Linked DNA regions of Homo sapiens. The protein of the gene in region 1 purifies or fractionates together with the protein of each later gene. This does not show direct contact. Each region holds a gene or a part of one and is shown on either strand. Other genes may lie near its edges. The genes, in order: MTRF1L, MECR, TTC4 and PRPSAP2.

Region 1 (5,811 bases):
GGCATTTTATCTCCAGAAATCTGGGTGGGAAAAGAGGGGTGACAATAAGCAGCTACTTAAAGGGTTGAAAAGAAAAGGACCCATTTAGAATGGGAAACCATAAACATCTTTATAGGCAAAGGGGAAGGCAGGCACATGGTAGGTGTCCAGTAAACATATGTTGATTTATAATATTCAAGAGAAATTAAAGAAGTAGTATATTACCATTGCCTGTGAGTAACTCCTAATTCTAAACCCTTTAGAGCTGCACTGTCCAATATAGTAGCCAGTAGCCACACAGCTGTTGAGCAATTTGTGGCTAGTCTGAATTGAGGTGTGTAAGTGTAAAATACATATAGATTTCAAACACCTGGTATAAAAAGTAATATGTTTATGTTAATTACATGTTGAAATAATATTTGGAGCATATTGGGTTAAATAAAATATAGTATTAAAATTAAATTACTTCTAGACTCTAGTTCCAATCTCCTTAGCTTTGCAGAACTGAAAGGCACCTTAGAGATTATCCAGCTCAGAACTTTCATTTCATTCTTGTCATAACTGAAAGAAGTTGAGCCTATTGCCCTAACAGTACCTTAGCGATTAAGCTAGGGCTAGAATTCATTTTTGCTTTTCCTAACACATTTTCCATTCTACCAAATTTCTTCCATACCATATGCTTGCCAAAATAATTTTCAGCAGTGCTTCCTGTACTTGCTTATCTCAGTTTTGCTGTTGTTATTCTCTCTCCTTGAGTTAATCTTTTTTTCCTTTTTCTGCCCATTCCAAAACCAACAGATTCCTTCAAGGCACAACTGTTTTAATATTTAATCACATAGTGTATTAGTCTGTTTTCACACTGCTGATAAAGACATACCCAAGACAGGGTAATTTTTAAGAAAAAGAGGTTTAATAGACTAACAGTTCCACGTGGCTGGGGAGGCCTCCCAATCATGGTGGAAGGCAAAAGGCACGTCTTACATGGCAGCAGACAAGAGAGATAACTTGTGCAGGGGAACTCTTCTTTATAAAACCATCAGATCTTGTAAGACTTATTCACTATCATGAGAACAGCACAGGAAATATCTGCCCCCATGATTCAGTTACCTCTCACTGGGTCCCTCCCACAACAGGTGGGAATTGTGGGAGCTACAAATCAAAATGAGATTTGGGTGGGGACACAGCCAAACCATGTCACATAAGGGTTTAGGTTATTTTTTGTTTTTCTCTTCTAGAAAAATATAAGGAAACTAAAATTATCTATAATGCTCTCTTGAGGGCAGGTCTTATATATGTATTATCCCACTTCCCAGCATGGTTGTTTCTTAATAGATAAGCATACAAACTGATGCTTTGTAAGGGTTTGAACTTTCAATAGAGAGAACAATTTGTTAATAGCCAGAAATTTTCCCTTTCCTCCTCCTTTATATATGCTGCATATCATCTATAGGGTAGAGGAATGAGAAAGTATGTTTTATAAGGTAAAAATGAAAATTCAAAGATGAAACAACAATAAAGGTAAAGCCAGAGAGAGAGACAGAGGAGTACTTCGTATAAACATTCTGTATACATTAGGCAGAATCTAATAAATGTTTTTGGGTGGATACTAAAATACTAATGAAACATTTGCTTATAAGAGAATAAATTTCTACTTTTTAATTGAATTTTAGTTTTACTGGTGTAACCTTCTGTATCCCTTCTGTCTTATTAGCTAAATGCATTCGTTATTATACAGTCTAAGTTGGAAGTCTAAAAGCATATTTATTAAGGTGAATATTTCATGGAGATGAAATTATGGAAGAGTTTAGCTTCTTTATATTTTTATAGAAATTTGTACTTGTACTTTATCAGAAAAAAAATTTTATACTTACATGCTTATGAAAACTAATGTATAAAATGGTGAAATTGATTGAAAGGACATTTATTGAAAGGCATTTATTGAATGGTATTTATTGAAAGGACAAGATATACATTTTATTTTTCCCTTCAGCTATAATAACCATAAAACTATTTCCTAGAAGTCTGCTAGCAATTTAACACTAATTAAGGAAAACCTTAACTTCTGCCCTTTTTTTCCTAGATGAGAATGAAGATTTAAGGAAACTTGCAGAGAATGAAATCACTTTGTGTCAAAAAGAAATAACTCAGCTGAAGCATCAGGTATGGTATTTCTGCAAAGAATAAAGCATTTGTGCTATTCTTAGGCATTAAAGTTTATTAAAGGTTTATAAAAACAAGTGACTAGCTTGTTACTGTTTAGAATAAACTGGGTTTTTTAAATTTATTTTCTAGATTTATTGAGGTATAAATTGACCCCCAAAATTGCATATATTTAAGGTATATGATGTGATGTTTTGATATATGCATACATTTTGAAATGATTATGACTATCAATAAACTGGTTTTTAAAGAACAAACTTCACATGGTCCTGTTTTCATCATACTAAAAGTACTGTAGCGCTCTCACAGAAAGATAAATGTCACAGTGATAGTATTTTCTGGAAAGGCAGCGAAATAGTGGCATATCTTCCCTTTTTTTTTTTTTTTTTTTTTAAGAAGACTGGAGGTAGACATGGGGCAGAAGAGGTTATATGAAAGGACTTCAAAAGTTTGTGGAAAACTGGAATTAAAAGATAAAAAAATATATATATAAACTTTAATTTATTGACATAAGTGCCACCAGCTATCAAGTTCAAGACACTTTGGTAAGCAAAAAGGTGATATACCAGCATTTAATGCATCCCTAAAGAACTGAGGGTCCTGGGAATTTAACCATGTCAATGTAGTCTTTTTTATATTATTAACTAAAGAACAATGGGTACCCTTTACAAAGTTTTTAAGATCAGGAAACAAAAAAAAGGAGGAGCCAAATAAGGACTGTAACATGAGTGCCTATGGATTTCCCATTGAAGCTCTCAAAATTGCCTGTTTGATGAGAGGAATGAGCAGGAGCACTGGTGTAGGAGAGGACTCTGGTGAAGCTGTCCCTGGTATTTTGCTAAAACTCTGGCTTTCTCAAAACCCTCATAGTAAGCAGATACTGTTCTTTGGCCCCTAGAATGTCAATAAGCAAGGTGCCTTGAGAATCCCCAAAAAGACTATTGCCATGACTTTTGCCCCTAGCCAGTCTGCTTTTGCTTTGACTCGACCCCTTCCACCTCTTGGTGGCCATTGTTTTGATTGTACTTTGTCTCCAGGATCATACTGGTAAAGCCATGTTTCACTTCTGGTTATAATTCAAAGAAATGCTTTAGGATCTTGATCCAATTTGTTTAAAATTTCTATTGAAAGCTCTGCTCTTGCCTCCAGCTGATCTGCATGCAAAGGTTCTGGCACCCATCCAGTGGAAAGTTTGCTCACCTTTAATTTTTTTGTCAGAATTTTATAAGCTGAACCAGTTGAGATGTCTGTGGTTTGACTATTGTTTCTTCTGTTAATCATCAGTCTTCTTCAATTAGGGCATGAATAAGATAATTTTTTTCCTCACAAATTGATGCAGATGGTCTGCCACTGTGGACTTCTTCTTCAACATCATCTTGTCTCTACTTAAAATGAGTTATCCATTTGTAAACTGCTGATTTCTTCAGGGCATCATCCCCATAAACTTTTCATAAAGCATCAATGATTTCACCATTCTTCCACCCAAGCTTCACCAGCAATTTAATGTTTGTTCTTGCTTCAATTTAACAGAGTTCATATTGCTCTGATGGGGCTCTTTGCAAACTGATACCCTTTTTAGTACCTCAAACTAGAGCCTGTGACTTGTTATAACAAGTTAGCACGAGTTTATTTTGTTACAAAATAACTTTGAAATACAACTTCTTGAAGTCCCCTGTTAGAGTGATAGTAGACTGTGAGCTCCTCAGGGCCAGGAATACTTATTTTGCATCTCTGACACTATTTGGAATACCAGACCTAGAGTAAGCCCTCACGATTTTAAGAATTGGATTACATTGCTTTGGTTGTACATCTTTGTGAATTACAGAACATATAGAGTTAATGAAGAATAATTATATGAAATTAGAGCCACTCTTTGCTAATTCTGTAAAGCAGAGACTAAAGGTTGACAGCAATTACCGTTGGGGATAAGTGAAAGAATATGTTAGGTAAGGAAGGAGCCAGGAAAGGGGGTACTTATTTTTGAGAATCTGCTTCCCCTTTAGGCAAATGTGAAAATTACTAAAAATTAATGTTCCTATAACCTATGTTAGAGGGGGAGAATTCCACTATAAGGTGAAAAGTGTAGTATAGCTCGCATTTTACCCATTTTCTAAATTAAATTTTGTGTGAATAAGAAGGATATGTGTATTAAATGTTTCTGTTCAGTGTCTAGTAATCAACAAACAGAAGTAAAATCCATTATTTGTTCAAAATTTGAATGATAATGTTGTATTGGCATAGGCTAGAGAGATGGAAAAGTAGTAACTAGCATAGCTTCTGACCAATGTCAAGTGTGATAGCAGTGTACTCAGGTATATTCAGGTTCAATTCTAGCTCTTCCACTTAACTTTTGAGTTGGGTAATGTTGAGCCACTAGATTATTCAACCCCTGTAAAATTAGTTTCACATCTTAAGGTAGAACTGTTAATAATACTTACCCAAGATTGTTTTAAGAATTACAGTATGTACAGTGCTTAGAATGCCTGCCATATATTAAAGAACCAATAAAATGTTGGTAGCTTTTCTTATTAATTGACCTAATCTAAGAAGTGTTTGTTCTAGATCCCCTTGATTAGAAACACACTATTGTAATGGAGGGAAGACTGATCTAGGCACAAAGGTTTGTGTTCTTGTGCCTGCTTGGCCAGTAACTAACACTTTGCCCTTAAACAAGTCATTTAATCTCTGTTAAGCTCTGTTTCCTTTACATGTATAATTAAAGAATTGGACCAGATAATCTCTAAGGGCCTTTTTAGTTTCAAAATTACAAGTTTCTCTTCCATAATAAGAAATCTTAAAATAATACAAATGTAGTTTTGAGTGCTTTTGGTTTTCTGCCATACTAGGCCTTAATTTTCAAGAGGATGGATCTAGAATCTTCTTTTGCTTTCCACAACAGTATAATCTCCGAATCAGAGCAAGTACTTAGTTCTTATTAACTGAAGAGAGAACTGATACAAAGCATACAAGAACTCCAACAGACAATAAAACAAGCCTGAAATTTTAGCTGAATCTTAACAGCATTTATAATATGGTTGTAACATTAATACTTTATGGAAGTTACACATTATACAGTTCTAATTGGCAAGGTGGTTGAACAGTACTCAGCAATATTACATTATTTGCTTGGCGAAACTTAAATATTTAAAATTCCTGAATCATTTAGCTTTTTATTTTTTGATAAATTTTAAATCTTAATTATAGGAGGGGTGATATTTTTATATTTACAGATTATCTTACTTTTGGTTCCCTCAGAAGAAACAGATGAAAATGATTTGATCCTGGAAGTAACTGCAGGAGTTGGAGGTCAGGAGGCAATGTTGTTTACATCAGAGATATTTGATATGTATCAGCAATATGCTGCATTTAAAAGATGGCATTTTGAAACCCTGGAATATTTTCCAAGTGAACTAGGTCAGTAAACTATTCATTTTGTTTCAGGTAAAGTGTTTAGGAAAAGAGTTGGAAAGACCATGACTAGGCTTTAGAACTTATCTGTGAGGATGCTTATGTAGTTTTATGCTCATCATTTACCTAATAAATTTGAATGCACATACAGTAATTTTGAGATGACCTATAAAATCTAATGGAGAGTCTTTCAATAATACTAACCATCAAATTGCTAACAGTCTTTAAAAGTAGTCTTAGATGTGTTACTGATGTCAACTGATT
Region 2 (5,811 bases), on another chromosome or scaffold:
TATACTAAGAGTGGGCTTCCATGACAGCCACAGCCACATTCATGGACAGTGAGGCCTAGAGAAACTGGACGATATGATGGAAAGAGAGTAAGTGAGGAAACCGAGTCTATTACTGACTTGCTGTGTCTTCCAGGGCAAGCTGCTCCCTGAAACTTCAGTTTCCTCATCTGTAAAAGACAGATGACAAACCTGCCCCTGTCTCCTTCACGTCTGTATTTAGCGCACTTCCAAGTACCACACAAAAGCAAGGGTAAAGGGGCCTTGGGTTAGACAGTTCACAGAAAGAATAATACAGCTCAAATCATTCCCAAATATCAACTGGGGTTTTGAAAACATGAGGTTATCACAAGCCAAGAGTCTCAGAAAGTCTTAGCTATTCAGTAAGGGCAGTCTCCACCTCCTTCCTGCCCTCTCTTTACATGTCAGATTCACTCATCCTATCGCCAAAAGCCAGCTGGACTTCATTTCTTAGGACTGACTCATCTGTTTCAGCCGCCAACTGTTAGCGATGCCTAAAGCCAGTTTATGCTTATGCAAGGGCGCCCTCTGGTGGACAACTGGGCACCGCAGGGATGGGAGGTGGGAAAGACCCAAGACATGGTCTGGGATGAAGCCTCCTTCCCCACGCACCTGTCTCGGACCACATTGATGGTTCTTAGGCCCAGGGCTGCGGCGATCTGGATGACTGCTTGCCCCACTCCGCTGTTGGATGCATTCTGGATGACAGAATCCCCTGTGGAGCCAGGAAGAGAACCAAATCAAGCCCTGTATAGATCTGCAATAGGTCAAAGGCTCCCAGCCGGGGATCCTTCTGTAGGCAAGGGAGTCCTCAGGCTCAACAGGGACCCAGGACCTGGCTGCTGAGTCTTCTCAGACCTTCCACTGTTTCTCACTGTTCTCCTAATGCCTCCTAAACTTCCACAACACTCACGATGCCTCCCAGGACTTGGCAACTCAGCATCTACACTGGATATAATTTAGACCCTGCCCTGCTATGTAAAATATTTTATAGCCTTCGTCATCCTCCCAACTTTTATGTCCTCAAGTCTTTACTTAGGTTATTTCCTTGGTTTGCAATGTTTCCCTCCTTCTCTCTTCCTTCCTATTGAAATCCTGTAGATCCTTTGAAGCGCAGCTCAAGTGCAGCCTTCATGAAGCCTTCCTGGATTGTTCCCTCTATGTGCTCCCACAGTGCTCTGTGGGCATCTGTATTAATGCACATACCACGGTCTGCCCCATCTTACACTTCATTGTATATAGGTCCATTTCTATCAACAGCTTGCAGCTTCTTGAGAGGGAAGGGTCATGCCCTATTCCTCTCTGCAGTGTTTAATAAAGGTGCACTGCCTTGAAATGGGATTACAGCTGCGCTGGAGAAACTGGCAGCCCCTGAAACAGGGTCCTACAGTTCTGTGGCAAAGCCCAGGTTTAGCTTTGGACCTGGCCATTGGGGAAGGCGGTGTGACATGCTGGGAAAAATGTGGGCTCTGGAATGAGACAGATCTGGGCATGAGTCTCAGTTTCACCAATGATTGTAACTAAACAGACAGGGCAAGTCATGACCTCTGTGAACTTCAGTTTCCTTCCCTTAAAATATAATCCCAGCTACTAGGGAGGCTGAGGCAGGAGAATCGCTTGAACCCGGGAGGTGGAGGTTGCAGTGAGCTGAGATCGCGCCACTGTACTCCAGCCTGGGTGACAGAGCGAGACTCCCTCTATTAAAAAAAAAAAGTGCCCCCGATTAGAGTCAAATGCATCGTGTCCGGGAAAGTGCTTTGTTGAATTTGAAATGCTATCTGGTTTTTGAGAGGCAGCAGGGATCTGTCACACAACGGGCTGAAACTAGAGATAGAGGACTTCCTGGAAGAAGAATGCCCACTCGTCTTCACCAGGGGTCAACGTACAGGTTGTCACCCACCAGTGGATTATGAATCAATCTAGTTGGTTGCAAGCACCTTTTTTTTTTAAAGTTAAAATTGAGAAGAGAATAAAAAATAACAGAGTATGTCACACATAGTAAGGGTATTTCACGAAACTTTGGTTTCCATTATATATATATTCCTATTTGTATAAACTGATCACAATATAAAATGTAATTCTTACCATGTGTCAAGATCCTAAGTTTATTCAACAGTGATCTAGTTCAGGCCATATCAGCCTTGAGGCAGGAAAGTGGAGAGGTGTGCAGTGGGTACTTAGGGTGGGCAGCGTCGAAATGCCTAGATCTGTTACTACAGCTGCAGCCTAAATGGGAGGTGGCTTTAGGGCATGGGATGCAAGCAAACAAAGTGTCTGCTGCACTAGGACTCCAGCAAAGGTCCCTGGTCACAGCCACTGGCTTTCTCCACCAAAGGCTCCCAGGAACCATCTGCCATAGTTGCAAGAAACCTATATTTCTCTTGTGGGAACTGGCATCGGCTTTCAGCCAGGCCTTGGACAGTGGCTGGGCACCATGTTTCATCACACTCCAACAACTGTGGGCCTCAGTTTCTTCGCTGGTATGAGAGGTGGCTTGGGTGAGTTCTACAGCCACTGCGGCTCACGGATGTGCATGGATGTGCATGGTGTGCAGAGGCAGCCCAGGAGGTTAATGCCCTTAGGGCGACCCTTAAACAATGGGGTGTGAGAATTAGTGGAAAACTGGCCCAGCCTCTCATCATTCAAGGGTTAGTTTTTGTTTTGTTTTGTTTTGTTTTGTTTTTGAGATGGTGTCTTGCTCTGTTGCCCAGGCTGGAGTGCGGTGGTGCAATCTTGGCTCACTGCAACTTCCGCCTCCCGGGTTCAAGCGATTCTCCTGCCTCAGCCTCCTGAGTAGCTGGGGTCACAGGCGCTGCCACCACGCCGGGCTAATTTTTGTATTTTTAGTAGAGACGGGTTTTCACCATGTTGGCCAGGCTGGTCTCAAACCCCTGACCTCAAGTGATCTGCCAGCTTCAGCCTCCCAAAGTGCTGGGATTACAGGCATGAGACACCATGCCTGGCCTTAAGGGTTAATTCTGCAGTGGGTTCTGAGAGTCTTCAGAGGGCCCCAGCAAGACTGAGCAGGCCGGCTGGGGGTGGGTGGCTCGCGCCTGTAATCCCAGCACTTTGGGAGGCTGAGGTGGGCGGATCACAAGGTCAGGAGTTAGAGACCAGCCTGGCCAATATGGTGAAACCCCATTTCTACTAAAAATACAAAAATTAGCCAGGCATGGTGGCAGGCACCTGTAGTCTCAGCTACCTGGGAGGCTGAGGCAGGAGAATCCCTTGAACCCGAGAGGTGGAGGTTGCAGTGAGCCCACGCCACTGCACTCAAGCCGGGGCGACAGAGCACGACTGTCTCAAAAAAACAGCCGGAGCAGTAGTTGCCCGCAGCAGTAACCGGGCTTCATGGGCTTTGCCTCCATCTCTGTCTCACTCTCCCCACTCCCCTTCATTTCTTCTTCCCAAACAAACTCTCTGCACCCAGTGCTGGTCTTAGGCTCTGCTTTCAGAGAAACCCAAATAAAAACACTTGGCTCTGTCATTTACTCCCTGGCTGATCTCATGCAAATAGTTTACCTTTCTGGACCTCAGTTTTCCCATTTATGAAAGGGAAGAAGAATATAAGCAGCGGACAGTCTCTGCACTGTATGCCCAGCACTGTGTGAAGTATTATGCTGTAGTGTTTCACCCTCCACGTTCTTTATTCTCCATTTTACAGAAGAAAAATCTGATGATTTGAGAGGCAAATTCACAGTCAGGGAAAGGTGAAGCCTGGGGTCAGACCCAGGTTATCTGCCCAGAGCTTGAGCTCTTAACCAATGATGGTACCAACCTTACTGCAATGCTGTGAAGATTTCATGCACTCAACGGGGATAATGCCTGTCAACGCACTTCTGTGAACTGGAAAGTGCTATGTAAACGCTGAGTGGAATTATTAACACTAAGTTCAGCATTTTATTGAAAACATAGGGACTGTGTCTATCTTGTCTGCCTTTGTATCCCAGAGCTTAGCCCCAGCTCAACACATTTTTGCTGAATGACAGAATTCAATCCCAAGCTCTAGAGAATGTGACCCTGCAGCAGTTTTCGAGAGTGTACTCCTCATGAGGTTTCAGCATGTTTCCTAGGAACCAAGCTAACATCTTTCTAAGTGAAAGCAACAACATTCACCCAGGTGAGAGGTCCATCACCCCCTCAAAACCTCCACCTTGCAAGTTCTCCTGGCCTTGGGGTCAGGATGTGAGTGGCACCCTAGTTGCGAGACCCTGGCCTGCTCCCCCAACCTGTGGGTTCCTACCTGGCTGCAGTTGCTCGAAGTCCATCAACATCCTGTAGGCTGTGCAGGGATTGACACCCAGGGTGGCAGCGCTCTGAAGAGGGATGTCACTCGGAACTTGGATCAGTGCTTCCTCGCTGAACACAGCCTCGGTCCGCCAGGTTCCTGAGTCAGAAGATGAAGCCAGGATCATAAGGAAGGAGCCCTGTGCACATTCAACCCCAGCTCACCCTCCTTGGCCAAGAAGCATCCAGGATAGTGGGTAGCATCCACTGGAAGCATCCAGGATAGCATCCAGGATGTTTAGAAAAAGAAGAAAATCTGGACGTTCCTCTGAATGTCTGAGTCCTCATGATAATTATGCACAATAGATTGTTATTCTTTTTAATTTTTTTTTTGGAGACAGAGTCTTGCTCTGTAGCCCAGGCTGGAGTGCAATGGCGCGATCTTGGCTCACTGCAACTTCCGCCTCCTGGGTTCGTGATTCTTATGCTGCAGCCCCCTGAGTAGCTGGGATTACAGGCATGCACTACCATACATGGCTAATTTATTTATTTTTAGTAGAGACAGGGTTTTGCCTTGTTGGTCAGGCTGGTCTTGAACTCCCGGTCTCAGGTGATTCGCCTGCATCGGCTTCCCAAAGTGCTGGGATTACACACATGAGCCACTGTGCCTGGCCCAAAATAGACAGTCATTCTTATCTTAAACATGTAGTAAAAATGGGGTGTGGTGGCTCATGCCTATAATCTCAGCACTTTGGGAGGCAAGGTGGGAGGACTGCTTGAGGCCAGGAGCTCAAGACCAGCCTGGGCAACATAGTGAGACCTTGTCTCTACAGAAAAAAAAAAAAAAAAAATTAGCTGGGCATAATGCCCTGCAGTCCCGGCTTCTCATGAGGCTGAAGTGGGAAGATTGCTTGAGCCCAGTAATTTAAGGACACAGTGAGCTATGATTGTGTGACTGCACTCCAGCCTCGGTGACACAGCAAGAACCTGTCTCAAAAAAACCCAAAAAACAAAAAACAAACCAAAACAAAATATGCCAAATACCATTGTAAGGGCGATTCAGAGAGGCTGCTTCTCTGAGTTACCATTAGATTTAGTTAATGTCACCGTGCAGGTAGTTAATGACCTCAAACTGCTGCAATCTAAGGGTAAGACAGTAGTAACATTACCACCAGGGCAGGAGAAGCTGAGAAAGCCCCCTTTTTCCTACACAGTCCTCATTCTTCTCATCCAGAGCAGGTTGACTCACATGTTTTTTTTTTTTAAGATGAAGTCTTGCTCTTGTCTCCCAGGCTGGAGTGCAATGGCATGATCTCGGCTCACTGCAACCTCTGCCTCCTGGGTTCAAGCGATTCACCTGCCTCAGCCTCCCGAATAGCTGGGATTACAGGCACCTGCCACCACGCCCGGCTAATTTTTGTATTTTTAGTAGAGATGGGTTTCACCATGTTGGCCAGGCTGGTCTCGAACTCCTGACCACAGCTGATCCGCCCGCCTCGGCCTCCCAGAGTGCTGGGATTACAGGCGTGAGCCACTGCGCCCGGCCTGACTCAGGTAGTTTTAGGC
Region 3 (3,500 bases), on another chromosome or scaffold:
TTTGGGTTAAGTGTTATTTAAGCTTCACAGTGGCCTTCTGAAATAGGTTGTCTTGCTTCTGTTTTTTTGGATAATAGTTTCAGAGAGGTGAAGAAACCTTACACAGCTAACATGTGTTAGAGCCGGGTCCTTGCTCTTAACCACTGGGTTGTACAGCATCCTGAGAAAGTCTGACATTTTAGGATGTTGTTCCTATAACAACAACAACAATAACAAAATGCCACCCTGTCTTTCTCTTTTCTGTATTTTGAAATATATATAGTCTGACCCAAATCTTGCTTTAACCTTGATACCTAGGGAGTCACCTGTTTGAGATTGTTTGGTCTTAACAAAGGAGAGAATATCTGCTGGGAGATTATGGGATAGGTTTTTTTTTTTTTTGAGATGGAATGTCTCTCTGTCACCCAGGCTGGAGTGCAGTGGTGCAATCTCGGCTCACTGCAGCCTCCACTTCCTGGGTTCAAGCAATTCTGCTTCAGCCTCCCGAGTAGCTGGGACTACAGGTGCACACCACCATGCCCAGCTAATTTTTGTATTTTTAGTAGAGACGGGGTTTCACCATATTGGTCAGGCTGGTCTTGAACTCTTGACCTCAGGCGATCCACCTGCCTTGGCCTCCTATAGTGCTGGGATTATAGGCGTGAGCCACGGTGCCCAACCGGGGTAGGTTTTTTGTTTTATTATTTGTTCAGTTAAATTATGCACCATTTATGTTACTTGTTGACTGTAAGAAACTTAACACTGCTAAAACATACTCCACTATTCCCTCCCCACAACAATCTGTTTACATGTATTAACACGTTAAACAGATTAGAATACTCCAGATTTTCCATCTAATTCTCATTCACAGTGAGGGATTTGTTCGTTTTCTTAATTGTAGAATATGAGATGCCCAGACACCCAGACATTTGCATAAATCCTTTTTTTTTTTTTTTTTGGTTCTCTTCTTTAGTGTAACCCTTCATCTCAAACTTAGCATACATAAGAGTTACTCTCAACAGTACACGAAGCCATGCATGCTGTATTTTACTAATGGTTAAAGGGAGGAGTCAGCAAACTGCAGCCGTTGGAACACAGCCCTGCCTATTTGTTTATGTACTACTTATGGCTGTTTTCACACTACAGTGGCAGAGTTGAGTAGTTAATTTTGACAGAGACCATTGTCCAGAACTCTTAAAATATTTCATATCTAATGCTTTAAGAAAAAGTTTGCTAACCTCCAATTTAGGGGATATCATCAAATCTAATTTTGATTGCATGTCATTTCCCCTCATGTGCTAACCTTAGGCACCCCTGCACACTTACATAAGAGGTGACCCTACTATTTCAGACCCTTAATTTATGCCCATGTCTAGGAGACAGTCAAGATTAAGTCAATGCACACTCTTTCTAGTATTCCATGTCCCAACTAAACTGAAATATTTGACATTTCTTTTTTTTTTTTTTTATCTTTTCTGTCCTTTTGCACTTGCTGCTCGTTGGAGTGGAAGGCTCTTCCTCCCTTCTAAGTGCCCCTCCCTTCCAACTTCTCTGCTTTTCAAAGTCATTGTTCAAGGCCTAGCATATCTCAGTCACCTCCAGCCCCCAAGGCTGAATTAATTATTCCATCGTCTATGGTACTACAACTCCACTTCTTACCTTATATCATCATTATTTCCATAGCTGTCTCACCACTTGATATTGAGCAGAGGCTTGAGGGCAGGTAGCCATGTCTAGTTCTCTGTGACACAGGGTCCAGCACAAGATAGATGCCCAATGAAGGTGAGTTAAGTGGTACCTACTATGTGCCAGGCCTCAGGGATAATGAAGATGGATTGTGTGTAGAGCTGTCCCTCAGGGAGCTCCCATTGTTATGGTGTTTTTTTTTGTTTGTTTGTTTTTTGATGTATTAAAGTTAGTTGTCCATGTTCATTCAGGGTACAGATGAAGAAAATTAAATTAAAAATAAAGTTAGTCGTGCAGCCTGGGCAATATAGTGAAACTCCGTCTCTTCAAAAAATAAAAATAAATAAAAAATAAAAAAATTAGCCAGGCATTATGGTTTCTTTATTTCAGTAAAATGGGTTTGCATCCTCCCACACAATAAGATGTGCATTATGTGTGTGTGTTTCTGTCTTTAACCCAGGCTAGGAATATCAGGCTCTCAGAAGCTGCCTGTGAGGATGAAGATTCAGCCTCAGAAGGTCTAGGTGAGCTTTTCCTGGATGGACTCAGCACTGAGAACCCCCATGGAGCCAGGCTGAGTCTAGATGGCCAGGGCAGGCTGAGCTGGCCTGTGCTCTTTCTGTACCCAGAGTATGCCCAGTCGGACTTCATCTCTGCTTTTCATGAGGACTCCAGGTACTGACTTGCCCAGGAGCCCTCTGCTTTTGCTTGCATGCTGTCTCTGTTTTTGTGGCAGGAGGGACGAGTGGATTTTTGGTTGAGAAGGGAAGATAATGGTTTAGAGGGTTTCACACCATCTGGTTTGATAATAACCTCTCTATCCTGTAGCTGACTGAACCTTGACTAACTAGGTTTGCAACGACAGACAAAAGTCTCATCGTCATACTAACTGGGCTAGTACATGCAACACCACAGTATTGTGTTTGCCAAAGAGTGGTACACATCACTGGTGAAATAGGAAGTCATTTTAGGTAATACATGCATAGCAATTTAAGTGAATATTAATTAGAAAAAAAAATATAGAGGCTGGGCGCTGTGGCTTATGCCTGTAATCCCAGCACTTTGGGAGGCCGAGTCAGGCAGATTACTTGAGGCCAGGAGTTCGAGACCAGCCTGGCCAACATGGTGAAACCCAGTCTCTACTAAAAATACAAAAAATTAGCTGGGCATCTGTAATATCAGCTACTCAGGAGGCTGAGGCATGAGAATCACTTGAACCTGGGAGGTGGAGGGTGCAGTGAGCCGAGATCATGCCACTACACTCCAGCCTGGGTGACAAAGCAAGACTCTGTCTCAAAAAAAAAAAAAAATAAAAAAGAGATATATGTATGTCTTTGATAGATATGTATATATATCAGACTTAACTTGTGATTTCATAGGGTTAATGTGTAGAATGAGTCTAAGTGTAAGAGTGTAAGAAAAGTTTTTTTGTAATTTTTTTTTTTTTTTTGGAGACCAAGTCTCGCTCTGTTGCCCAGGCTGGAGTGCAGTGGCATGATTATGGTTCATCACAGCCTCCAGCCCCCAGGCTCAGGTGATCCTCCTGCCTCAGCCTCTCAAGTAGCTGGGACTACAGGTGAACATCACCACATCTGGGTAATTTTTTAATTCTTTGGTAGACACAGAGTCTCTCTATGTTGCCCAGGCTTGTCTTGAACTCCTGGGCTCGAATGTTCCTCCCACCTCGGCCTCCCAAAGTGCTGGGATTTACAGGCATGAGCCACTGCACCCTACCAGAAATGTTTTTAACCTTGAAGCTGTTTAAAGAAAATTATGTCAGCTGGGCATGGTGGCTCATGCCTGTAATCCCAACACTTTGGGAGGCCAAGACAGGA
Region 4 (5,811 bases), on another chromosome or scaffold:
TGGCTCACTGCAAGCTCTGCCTCCTGGGTTCATGCCATTCTTCTGCCTCAGCCTCCCGATTAGCTGGGACTACAGGCACCTGCCACCACGCCCGGCTAATCTTTTGTATTTTTAGTGGAGACAGCGTTTCGCCATGTTGTCCAGGCTGGTCTCGAACCCCTGACCTCAGGTGATCCACCCACCTCGGCCTCCCAAAGTGCTGGGATTACAGGCGTAAGCCACTGCGTGGCCTTTTTTTTTTTTTTTTTTTTTTAATTTTTTAGATGGAGTTTTGTTCTCATTGCCCAGGTTGGAGTGCAGTGGATCTCAGCTCACTGCAACTTCTGCCTCCTGGGTTTAAGCGATTCTCCTGCCTCAGCCTCATGAGTAGCTGGGATTACAGGCATGTACCACCATGCCTGGCTTATTTTTATTTTTATTTTTTTGTATTTTTAGTAGAGATGGGGTTTCACCATGTTGGTCAGGCTGGTCTCGAACTCCTGGCCTCAAGTGATCTGCCCACCTCAGCCTCCCAAAGTGCTAGGATTACAGGCGTGAGCCACTGTGCCTGGCCGTATATAATTTTTATGGAGGTCACATGTATAAATGCATAGAAAAAGTCTTATGTTGTCCCTACCAAACTGATAAGAACCCTCACTTCTGGGGAGGACCTGGGATCGAGGCTGGTGACTTTATCCTTAACTATCATGTTTCAGGTTTTTTTTTTTTTCTGAGACGGAGTCTCGCTCTGTTGCCCAGGCTGGAGTACAGTGGTGCAATCTTGGCTCACTGCAACCTCTGCCTCCTGAGTTCAAGCGATTCTCAAGCCTCAGCCTCTAGAGTAGCTGGGACTATAGGCAGCCACCACCACGCCCAGCTCATTTTTGTATTTTTAGTAGAGACAGATTTCACCCTTTTGGCCAGGCTGGTCTTGAACTCCTGACCTTGTGATCCGCCTGCCTTGGCCTCCCAAAGTGCTGGGATTACAGGTCTGAGCCACCGCGCCCAGCCATGTTTCAGGTTTTTATAGGGAGGATGTGTTTGTGTTTTACTTGTATAATTAAAATTTGAGAATAATGAAAAAGATTAGCTTAGTTTCAGCTCATTGATGATCTACACCAGCCTTCCCAGAGGTCCCAGGTGAACATACAACTGTGGAAATGCAGTGGGCTTGCTGAGAAAGGGCCCCCCTGCCCACAGCCTGCTGGATTGTTGCTGTTCCTCCCATCTAGCATCTCCATTATGTGATGAGGACACTCAGCAATGATGACGACTTTTTTTTTTTGAGATGGAGTCTTGCTGTGTCGCCAGGCTGGAAGTGCAGTGGCACGATCTCAGCTCACTGCAACCTCTGCCTCCCAGGTTCACGTCATTCTCCTACCTCAGCCTCCCGAGTAGGTGGGACTACAGGCACGCGCCACCATGCCCAGCTATTTTTTGTATTTTTAGTAGAGACAGGGTTTCACCATGTTGGCCAGGGTGGTCTTGATCTCTTGATCTCGTGATCTGCCTGCCTTGGCTTCCCAAAGTGCTAGGATTACAGGCGTGAGCCACCACATCTGACCAGCACTGATGATTTATAAGCCAGGGACCTTTTTATTTTTGGCCCACTGCCAAAATTTGGGTGTGACCAAAACTGTCATTTGGGTGGTCGCTTAAGTGTCCTTCAAGGTGATTATCTAGTCAGCCCGTGTTCCACTTGAGGAAAATGAAGATGAGAGGTCAGTTTTAGACATGACACAGGGCAGCTGAAAGGCCGGGAAAGGTTTTATGGTAAACAAGGATTACAGGAAAAGCTGGGTGTAGATGGGTCATTTATTCTTTGTCTAAGGATTAATCAGTCCTTGTTCTCGCTAATGGCTCTGCCATTTTTCTGTGTGTTAATCCAGGAGGAATTTTGTTGTCAGAGAATAAAAGGAGGTTGTCCATAATTGACTTTAAGCAGCAATCAGTAAAACATTGAGCTCTTCAGCTCCGCCTTTCTTGTAAGTTTATCATTTCTTCTTAGTGGTTGTGAACATCATGTGATAATGTATTTCCATAAATTTAGGACCCTGAAATCCAACTGAACTTTCTGTTTGTCCATATATATCTAATATTTAAAAAATACTATTAGGATGGAAACTAATTTCCTTCAGCTGAAGTCATTTCCTTTAAAAAAAATTCATTCAGGTATATTTCATATCATATGGCAGTTTTTAATAAGTATTATATCCTTCTAGGCTCTGAAAATTGGAAAACCAAGAAGGTTTTGATGTTTTGTGTGACGCCACCTGAATTAGAAACCAAGATGAACATAACCAAAGGTGGTCTGGTGTTGTTTTCAGCAAACTCGAATTCATCATGTATGGAGCTATCAAAGAAAATTGCAGAGTGAGTTATAATTGTACCATTAAAATCTATATTCATTATGTGATGCTTTAAATTTGATAATCAGATTAGCAGTTATTGTTAAATTTGAAAGCAGATATTTTATAATTATAAAATAATTATATCTTTTTTTCATCATGTATCTTTTTTTTCATCATGCAAGATGTTCATGTAGTATGTCTCATCTGTATATATTAAGGGCTATTCTTTTTGTAAACTATCCCATCTCCCTACATATTCTTTCAGCAGACATTTATTGAGTGCCTTATAAGTGCCAGGGATTGTGTTAGATGCTATATATATATATAATTATTTGAGTATAAAGCACACTGGGGCCAGGCGCGGTGGCTCACGCCTGTAATCCCAGCACTTTGGGAGGCCAAGGCGGGTGTATCACGAGGTCAGGAGATTGAGACCATCCTAGTTAACAAGGTGAAACCCCGCGTCTACTAAAAATACAAAAAATTAGTTGGGCGTGGTGGCGGGCACCTGTAGTCCCAGCTACTTGGGAGGCTGAGGCAGGAGAATCGCTTGAACGCAGGAGGGTTGCAGTGAGCTGAGATTGCACCACTGCACTCCAGCCTGGGCAACAGAACGAGACTCTGTCTCAAAAAAAGAACATTAACATGTATATTATATGAAATAACTTATAGCTTATAGTTTAGTATAATTTTAGATATTTATTAAACAAATATTGTACCCCTACTACTGTGTACTAGACCTTGATCTAGATGTTGGGGATTATCAGTGAGTCAAGATCCATCCTTTTTATGAAATTTACATTTTAGTATGGGAGCCAAACAGAAATCAAGTCAACAAAACAAACAAGGTAATTTCAGATGATGTCAATGCTATGAAGAAAACTGTGTGAAAGTAATGATGGGGCAGGTTGTTCTGCTTTAGCATGTGTGCTGAAGTGCTTTTAAACTGAAGGGATGGTGTGTGAGTTGAGAAACCTGAATGAGCCACCAAGTGAAGGTCTGGAGGCAGAACCCCCCCAAGCAGAGGGGACAGCAGATTCCAAGCCTCTGCAGCATGCAGGAGGAGTTCTTGGTGTGTCTCAGGAACGTGGGCTGGAGTACAGAGTGTCCAAGGAAGATGGCTAGTGAGGCAGGCAGAGCGGGACTGCATAGTCCTTCCTGGGGAGACATGGGGTTGGGGTGAGGGGCTAGGTAATGGATTGATGTAACAATTTAATGTTGACTTTAAATTTTATAAGAAGAATAACTTTATTTTATTTTACTCTTATCGATTTACGAGTCTCCTTAAATAGTAAAGATACTGGGTTTCTTCTATTACTTTTTCAGCTTTTTCCCCCTTTCTCTTCTCTAGGCGGCTAGGGGTGGAGATGGGCAAAGTGCAGGTTTACCAGGAACCTAACAGAGGTGAGCTATCTTGGGCATGTGGAACATTGACCTTTTTGTGAAATGTGGCATATTGGCTCCGTCCTTCATCCTTTACTATTGAAACGATTTGATTCAGTTGTACATTTCCATTAGCAAGAAGTCAGGCAGGCAAGGTAGAACAGAGTGGTTTTTTAGCTCTCACTAATACCAGCTAGATATCTAACCCTGGTGCAAGTCATTTCTGGGGCTTGAACTGCAGTTCTGAGACTTCATTCAGTAAAAGCTGCAGACATATTTGAACCAGCTGGTCAACTGAATGAACATGAGCTCAACTGTTGCTTAAATTTATGTCACCTTAGGAAGGATGAGTAAATCCTGTCACCTTAGACAGGATGACTAAATCCTGTGTGACCGCAGTTTTAGTTAGTCTTTATTTGCACCTAAGCTGCCTTGGGTTAGACTTCATAAAATATTGTTAAGAAATACTTTTTGCTAATTGATACATGTCATTACATAATTCTCCCAAGTTGTAAAAAGAAGTGTTATTTAACCTTTGTAGGTCCAGGTGTGCTGGCTCATGCATCTAATGCCAGCACTTTGGGAGGCTGAGGCAGGCAGATTCCTTGAGCTCAGGAGTTGAGACCAGCCTGGGCAACACGGCAAAACCCTGTCTCTACTAAAAATACAAAAATTAGCCAGGAGTGGTGGTTTGCACTTGTAGTCCCAGCTACTAGGGAGGCTGAGGTGGAAGGATCGCTTGAGCCCAGGAGGTGGAGGCTGCAGTGAAGTGTGATCATACCACAGAGTGAGACCCTGTCTCAAAAATAAATAAATAAATAAATAGAAAGTGATCTTTGTAATTTCTTTAGCAATGGTGGATATTTGAAATTATTTTAGGCCAGGCGTGGTGGCTCACGCCTGTAATCCCAGCACTTTGGGAGGCCGAGGTGGGCGGATCACCTGAGGTCAGGAGTTCGTAGACCAGCCTGGCCAACATGATGAAACCCTGTCTCTACTAAAAATACAAAAATTTGCTGGGCTTGGTGGCAGGCGCCTATAATCCCAGCTCCTGGGAAGGCTGAGGCAGGAGAATCGCTTGAACCCGGGCGGTGGAGGTTGCAGTGAGCCAAGATTGTGCCATTGCACTCCAGCCTGGGGGGGAACAAGAGCGAGACTTTGTCTCAGGGGAAAAAAAAAAAAAAAGAAATTATTTTAGCAGGAGCGATGGACAGCTTGCATGGGCTTGAGAGTTACACACCTTATCCTTGACAAGTTATTTAACCTTTCTAAACTATAAATAAACTGTAAATTAGGGCTGTTTTGAGGATTAAGTGGGATAACTTGTGTGCCTACCAGTTTTTGGCACACAGTAGGTGCTCAATATATACTTATTCCTGTTCCTTTTCCACTAGAAGATTTAAAAAAACATTTTTTTTTTTTTTGGTAGAACAAGGGTCTCATTATGTTGCCCAGGCTTATCTCAAACTCTGGGCAAAAGCAGTTCTCCTATTTCAGCCCCCCAAAGTGCTAGGATTACAGGTGTGAGCCACCAGGCCTGGCCCCTCTACAGGATTTTATCAAATATTTACATATTATAAAGCCTACAGGAGGCTTTGATAAAAAGGCACAAGTTTTGCTGTTCCCATGTTTATCTCCGTTCCTGCCTCTTTTCTGTCTCCCAAGATCCCTATGTGGCGTCAGTAGGGAAAAAGTATAATTAAACTCTGCAAGGAGAGTTTGGAGAAGATTCTTCCTCTAGAGGGGATTGAATGATGTTCTTTGTCTGGAGTCTAGGAGGGAAGGTGAAAGGGAGAAGCAGTGGCATAAGACTCCAGGAGACTGGTCCACTCTCCAAGTTTCTGAATAAAGGGAGAGAAAATACTTGGTGTTTATTGGGAAGGAAGGAAGTAATATTTGTGAATTTCTTACTGTTACCAGATACTGAAAAACTGAGTTCAGGAGTTCAGGGATTGATGTTAGGTACGAGGTCCAGTTTGAATCCAGATCTCCCTGACTCTAAAGCTCATTTTCTTTTCTTTTCTTTTCTTTTTTTTTTTTTTGAGACAGGGTCTTTCTGTGTCACTCAGGCTGGGGTGTAGTGGCATGATCAGGGCTC

Evidence for each region.
Region 2: the proteins of MTRF1L (region 1) and MECR fractionate together in Homo sapiens (co-fractionation; one large-scale study listed by BioGRID). This does not show direct contact.
Region 3: the proteins of MTRF1L (region 1) and TTC4 purify together in Homo sapiens (affinity purification with mass spectrometry; one large-scale study listed by BioGRID and IntAct). This does not show direct contact.
Region 4: the proteins of MTRF1L (region 1) and PRPSAP2 fractionate together in Homo sapiens (co-fractionation; one large-scale study listed by BioGRID). This does not show direct contact.

What each region holds. Positions count from the first base shown.
Region 1 is NC_000006.12:152,994,878-153,000,688, reverse strand, and holds part of MTRF1L (peptide chain release factor 1-like, mitochondrial), read left to right. Parts: intron 1-2,053; exon of another isoform or gene 2,054-2,059; coding exon 2,060-2,139; coding exon of another isoform or gene 2,140-2,163; exon of another isoform or gene 2,164-2,396; intron 2,397-2,535; exon of another isoform or gene 2,536-2,684; intron 2,685-5,369; coding exon 5,370-5,553; intron 5,554-5,811. UniProt on the Homo sapiens protein: Mitochondrial peptide chain release factor that directs the termination of translation in response to the peptide chain termination codons UAA and UAG.
Region 2 is NC_000001.11:29,202,501-29,208,311, forward strand, and holds part of MECR (enoyl-[acyl-carrier-protein] reductase, mitochondrial), read right to left. Parts: intron 4,406-5,811; coding exon 4,262-4,405; intron 734-4,261; coding exon 631-733; intron 1-630. UniProt on the Homo sapiens protein: Catalyzes the NADPH-dependent reduction of trans-2-enoyl thioesters in mitochondrial fatty acid synthesis (fatty acid synthesis type II).
Region 3 is NC_000001.11:54,729,361-54,732,860, forward strand, and holds part of TTC4 (tetratricopeptide repeat protein 4), read left to right. Parts: intron 1-2,125; coding exon 2,126-2,340; intron 2,341-3,500.
Region 4 is NC_000017.11:18,863,601-18,869,411, forward strand, and holds part of PRPSAP2 (phosphoribosyl pyrophosphate synthase-associated protein 2), read left to right. Parts: intron 1-1,868; 5' UTR 1,869-1,964; intron 1,965-2,201; coding exon of another isoform or gene 2,202-2,233; coding exon 2,234-2,352; intron 2,353-3,656; exon of another isoform or gene 3,657-3,681; coding exon 3,682-3,734; intron 3,735-5,811. UniProt on the Homo sapiens protein: Seems to play a negative regulatory role in 5-phosphoribose 1-diphosphate synthesis.